Homo sapiens: one gene and its partner. The protein of the gene in region 1 purifies or fractionates together with the protein of each later gene. This does not show direct contact. Each region holds a gene or a part of one and is shown on either strand. Other genes may lie near its edges.

Evidence for each region. The genes of interacting proteins can lie anywhere in the genome.
Region 2: the proteins of DLX6 (region 1) and GNB1L purify together in Homo sapiens (affinity purification with mass spectrometry; one large-scale study listed by BioGRID and IntAct). This does not show direct contact.

The regions. Positions count from the first base shown.
Region 1 is NC_000007.14:97,008,553-97,011,540, forward strand, and holds the end of DLX6 (homeobox protein DLX-6), read left to right. Parts: intron 1-1,243; coding exon 1,244-1,495; 3' UTR 1,496-2,488; downstream 2,489-2,988.
Region 2 is NC_000022.11:19,799,375-19,802,874, reverse strand, and holds part of GNB1L (guanine nucleotide-binding protein subunit beta-like protein 1), read left to right. Parts: intron 1-658; coding exon 659-874; intron 875-3,500. UniProt on the Homo sapiens protein: Acts as a critical regulator of DNA damage response (DDR) signaling via specifically regulating phosphatidylinositol 3-kinase-related protein kinase (PIKK) family proteins.

The sequences.
Region 1 (2,988 bases):
CTACTAATTTGAAAGCCATAGAAGGCATTTCAGATTTCACAAGAAGGAGCTTAGGTGAGTATATTAGGACCCTGGTCAAAAAGCCAGGCTGCAATCACCTGCAGTTTTTGTTGATTAATTTACCTACATGGAGTAAGTAGGCCTCATCTGATGTAGGTAATCTTCAGCAAGGGGACCTCAGGTTTTATGAGACTGTTGCTGCAGACTGATTGTGTGTTGACTTAAGACAGTTGTTCCTTAAGCTCTTTTTCAATTTAGCCTGTTTTCTCTTTCCATATTGCTATTCATAATATTTGGGGTTTGATATGAAGGGATTCCGGCTATTCAGTGACTTGTATGCGTCTTGAAAAAGTAGATTCTTATGGCTAGGGAATTTTAAAGGTAAAGGAAGCTGCACCATAAAATTTCCTTCTTCAAATAAAGTAGATCTGAAATGTTGGCCTAGATATGCTCCCATCCCAGATTCCCGATTCACGTTTAATTTTCAGAAGCCCTTTGACTTTTAATTACTATACTAACAATCATGTGATGATCCTTGACCACAGTTTGACTAGGCAACATACAAAATAGGGAATGAAGGAGCTGCAGTCCTTAATCCCTGCAAGGTTATGGGGATATATTTATGTCTGGAGAAAGATGCTTCATGTATAATCTATGGCATATGCAATATATGCATAGATATATTCAAGGCATTTAGTTATAAATGTACAGGCTTTAATTCCTTCAGTCATTTGCTCCTTGTACCTTTATAGAGATAACAGCTTTTGGGTATCTCTATGCATGTACACGGAGAAAATGACTGTGTAAAATAGTTATTTTACATAGACTAAATTTACATTACTAAATTTTATGTAAAATGACAAGACTTTCAGAGGAGGTGCATTCAATTGAATGGCTTTGATTTGAAAGGGCTGCTTTTAAAAATCCTTTAGGCTTTGGACCTGGTCATCTCATTCAGCTTTTTCTTATTTATACTGTTGTTTTAAACCTACGCTAGCACGCAATTCTAGAATTACAATAACTTTAGGTATCCAGGCAAGATACCTAGTATGTTGTAGGAAGTGGGACTGTAAGAGGCTAGAAAGAGGTGGAAGGAGGCGGGGACTTGGCTTGTAGGCGTTGGCGGTGGTTGTTTTTTGTTTTTTGTTTTTTTGCTTTTTTAATATTGCTTCTAAATCCCTGAGTGACGTTAGAGGCACTGGTTTGATGTTTATGGGCCTAATGATTGCTGCATTTCTTGCAGGTGAAGATATGGTTTCAGAACAAACGCTCTAAGTTTAAGAAACTGCTGAAGCAGGGCAGTAATCCTCATGAGAGCGACCCCCTCCAGGGCTCGGCGGCCCTGTCGCCACGCTCGCCAGCGCTGCCTCCAGTCTGGGACGTTTCTGCCTCGGCCAAGGGTGTCAGTATGCCCCCCAACAGCTACATGCCTGGCTATTCTCACTGGTACTCCTCTCCACACCAGGACACGATGCAGAGACCACAGATGATGTGAGTTGCCCAAGGGAACACCCTAGGGAAACGTCTGAACAAGGAAAAGAGGATCCGGGACCTGCTTGTATCTGCGAAAAGGAGCCAAAGGAGCAGGCTTAGGAGAGCTCATAAGTGTGGCAAGAAGCCGACTAGGCTCATTCTCTCTCCCTCTCTCTCTCTCTCCCTCTCCTTTCTTTTTACTTCTTCCTTTCCTCCATTCCTTCTTTCTTTCCTTTTCCTTTCTACCTTTCTTTTCTTTTTGCCTTTCACCTTTTTTCTCATTTACCTTCTCTCTTGAGCAACGTCAGTAATTGATCTTGCATCTCAGAGAGAGAGAAAGAGCATGTGTGAGAGAGAAACTGGTTTCTATGCCAGCACTCCTGAAACCCCTTACTGTAAGGATATTTTCTCTTACCCCTTGGGATCCAGGCTCTGAGTCTCTTCTCTTTGGGAGTATCCATCAAAATGACTTTTTTTAAAAACAGATTTTCCCCCAACCAGAAGAATCTGCACAAACTTGGCAGCGTTTTTACTTGTTTAATGAGTTTAAGACATTACATGGTGAAAGAGAAGCATTTTGGACTCCTGCATTTTTATTTACCATTCCCAGACTGACGAGAAAAAGAAAATTCCTCACATAACAGCCCTTCTCTAAAGAAAAAGGAAAAAGTGGCTGTAAGATTAGAACATTGCTACAAAGGGAATGCTGCATGTTTTATCAAAATGCAATGACCAGGAATGATGGTTGATTAAAAAAAAACAAAACAAAAACCACTCTTTCCCCACCCCACCCCCCCAAACCCTGAACTGGAATCAGGAAAGACGGAGGAAACAATCAAAATCACCATTCTATTGCTTTGACACCTTTACTAGGTGAATTGGTGGCATTCACAAAGCTAATAGGGACGTTTATATCAAGAAACATTTCTGTATATATTGTTGAATTTTAGTTGTACATATACTTTGTATGTTTTTGTCTTCTTTCATATATGGAGTAAAAGCCACAAAACGCTGAGTGTCTTGTATATTTCTCTCTCTGTGTGTCTCTGTCCCTCTCTTTCCTCCCTCCTCCCTCACTTCCCTTCCCCCCATTAAATTTTCTATCACCCTTAAAAAAATTCCTATTTCCTAATATGGGAAGTCATATGTATATATATGAACATCAAGTGCCTGCAAAGATGTCAGTTTGCACACTAGCCTTTGTCTTAGGTAGTTTAACATTAACCATGGATGTTCTTTCAACTTTCTTTACATATTACGTTTTTATTGTAATTTCTACACATTTACCTATGTTTTAAACATTAGAATGACCTATCCTCAAGTTAACTTCTAGACATCACAGTAGTTTCTAGTGCTGAAACTGAGTATTCTCCTTTCCCTTTTCCCAGCCAAAATAATACAGCCATATTTGTCTTTGTTTGGATGCAGTTTTTTAAAATATAGGAAAGAAAAAAATAGAGAGTAGAGTGCACAATTATGCCTACTTAATGTTTAAAACCCATTGCCAGCTAGCTA
Region 2 (3,500 bases), on another chromosome or scaffold:
ACGAGGTGTCTGCCCAGGGCTTGGAGCCCTCTGACCCGCGCCCTCATTCATCACAAGAGCTCGGGCGGCTCACGCCAGGCTTCAGGGGCAGGGGCTTCGGCAGCCACTTTGACAAAGCACAGAGAGTTCATTTTTCATGGAGATGGAGCTCACGGTTTCTTCTGGCTGGCGGCTCTAGACAGGTGACCAGCCCCAGTAAGTGGTGGCCACACATCTTAGGCCTGGGGAAAGGAGGCAGGAGGACAGGTCCCTGTGCATGGGAGAAGTGGAGAGGGTCGGCAGCACTCACAGTGGCTGGTGGGTGCCCAGCATCACCCCTTTGGGCAGAACCCAGGGTGGGCACATGCAGGTTGCAGGGCTGGTGAGAAGTGGTACAGCAGTGGGAGGCCTTGGGCTTGGCTCTCTGCCCTCCACCCCTATGTCCTTGGGGTGCCCTAAGGGCAGCCGTGCCAGTCCCATGCTGACAGCATCAGCCATCCAGGGGCTGTGTGGGAGGGCACTGGCGGTGCAGAGCTTCTGAGCTGTGGCAGCCACGTGGAAGACATGGGAAACAGCCCCAGCCAGCAGGAGGGGCAGGAATTTCCAGAGCCCCTTCTCCCCCGAAACTCACTGGAGTCAGGGTCCTTCCAGGAGCTGACTGCTCTGCTGTTCCCCGCAGGCCGACTGCAGCTCCCGCCCACTCCTTCTGGCCGGCTATGAGGATGGATCGGTGGTCCTGTGGGACGTCTCTGAGCAGAAGGTGTGCAGCCGCATCGCCTGCCATGAGGAGCCCGTCATGGACCTTGACTTTGACTCCCAGAAGGCCAGGGGCATCTCAGGCTCCGCGGGGAAGGCGCTGGCTGTCTGGAGCCTGGACTGGCAGCAGGCCCTGCAGGTCAGTGCGCCAGGCCCCGGGTCTCATTTATCCTGCTCTGCACTAACAGTCTGATAGGCTGAAACAATATTTAGGCATGAAGAGGAGTTGTTGCAGATCCCTGGCTAATTAATCACTTGGAGGCGGGTGCAGGGGGGCTGTCCATGGCTGGCGCAGGAAGAAGGGGGCGTGGGCGCTGGCAGACCATTCACATGGTTTGGGTTTCGCCCAGACCTCGGGTTCATGCCGTCACATCTTGTCCATCTAGAGAAAGGCACGCAGAGTCCAGGAATACTCAAACCCCTTTGTGAAAACTCAGAGGAATTTGGTCAGTAAGGAACTGATTAATCAAAAAAAAAAAAAAAAAACCAGTGTGGAAAACTGCGAGGAGCTGCAGCCCCCGTGGTGGTCTGGAGCTGGCCCGAGGGAGGCCATTGCTCACGGGCAGCAGGAAAGCCCAGCAGGAAGGCTGGGAAGCCTCAGGGCCACCTGGCGGTTGCTGAAGATCTTCCCATGGTGTCTCCTGGGCTCTCCTAGCTGGCATGGCTCGAGGGGCACCGTGGTGTCCCTGTCTGGGCCTGTGGCTCCAGGGTGGCCTGGCCTACACGTGGCCCTGTTTGGGATGGGAGGGATCAGGTCAGGCTGGTGGGGGCAAGGGGAGTCTCCTGTCCAGGTCTCACTCTGGTGCAAGTCTCAGGGGCTGCAGAGACCATGGGAGATGAGGTGCTGGGTGTGGCCTGGGTACATCCTGGCTTCTGGGGGGTGGACAAGGAGCCCCCATTCACCAGAAGTCTTGGAAGCCTGAGACCCATAGCCAGCGAGTGGTCAGATTGCCCAGTCTAGTGGGTGAAGGGCCTCCAGGGGGAGCTGCATGTCCCGTGAGGTGACTACTGGCAGAAGCAGCAACAGCTCCCAGCCTCACCAAGGACAGGGCCCGGGGCTGCCCTTCTCTGTAGGGCTGTGGTCCAGGCTGTCTGTACGACAGGAGGCCACAGAGAGGGCATTCCTCGGGCCCCCCAGGCAGGGCAGACTTGCCCGCAGCCCCAGCAAGCCTGCTGCGCCTCACGCTTGCCCAGCCCTGGCCCCTGTGGGGCGGGGAGGGTTCACCTCGGGTCCGTCAGGCCCACCCCTGAGTGGGCACCACCAGAGTCTTTGAAGCACATGGTGGAGCTGCGGAAGGACATGCCCTGGTGAGACTAGGATACACAGAGGGGCAGGGTTCTGTGAGCGGCCCCAGTGCCCTGTGGGCATCACCAACCTGTGCAGGCACATGGTAGACTTGCAGGAGAGCTGTGTCCATCCCTCACCCATCCGTCAGCTGTCCTGGGGATGGGGGCACAAGGCCCTGATGTAAGCGGCAGAGCTTCTCATGTCTCCCCGGGAGGAAGGGTCTCCTAAGGCTTAGCAGGCCTGGGTGGTCGGTGGATGTGTCATCATCATGATGCCCGTTCTGAGCAGCTAGAAGCTGAGCTGCTCTGGGCGCTGGGAGGCAGAGCCACTCTGGGTGCTGGGTCTGCATGTCTGGAAGGGGCGTCTCCCTTGCACTCCCTCCCTCCTCCTCAAGCCTGGCAGGGATCCTGCAGGGCTGCCCCCATGGGGTCCAGTGTTCACTTGGCACTGGCTTGTCCTTCACCAGCCTGACAGCAAAGCGCTGAAGACCCAGACAGCTTCCCTGAGAGCCCCCGGAGGGCTCTTCTCTGCAGTTTCCACCTCTGTGCCCAGGACCCCAGGAAGGGGCCCTCCTGCCGTCCTGGCCCAGATCTGCCTCGTCTCTCCTGGTGTGTTTGGGAAACAGCTGCTGGAACTTAGGACTGTAATTTATGGGGCATGTTCCAGTCCAGAGATGAACTTGACCGGATTGATGAATTGAAAAGTTAAAGCAAAAGGGGGACCAGGTATTAATGAATTGGAAAGTGAGAGCAGAAGGGAGAACCAGGAACAGGGAGTGGTTGGCGTGGCTGTGGCGTGCTGGGCAGGGCATCGGCCCATGGTGCACATCGAAGGAGAGGCGTTTCCCCTGCTGAGCCCTGTGTTGCATGGGCCAGGAGGAGGCCTGGGAGGGGACAGGCGACTCCAGGAACAGGGGACAGGGAGCCGGAGAGGCTGATGCGCCACCCTCTGCCCAATGTCACATCTTAACGTTGATCCTAGAGGCCCTGGAGATTGCAGGTTCTGTAAAGCCCCAGCCTCAGGGAAAGCCTGTGGGGGCGCTTTCGGAGGTGAGCTGCCTGAGAGCGTTCTTGCCACCCGGGAGCAAGCAAGGTGACCGAAGGTCCTCAGCACCCACAGGTGTCCTCACCCACCGCCTGCACTGTGACTCCTTGGCTGAGAGCCACGTGGGCACGGCTGTGTCCCCCTCACACCCTCCTGCCGAAGCCTCTGATGAGCCCAGATCAGTCTCCCCCCGGCGGGTGCTGGGAGTAGAGACGCGAATGAGGTTCCTGGAGCAGAGCATGGGTAATCGGAACCAGATGGTGGCTTCGCCGCACCACGCATTCCTGGCACCTGAGGTCATGCGCTACGAGAGCCACTGGTGGCCAGAGATCCTTCCTGGAAGGCCCAGGTCCAGGCTGGGGCTTGGCCAGGGGCCGCGGTGGTGACGAGGAGGCTGCCCACATCAGGATACCACCTGAGGGTGCCTCGGGGT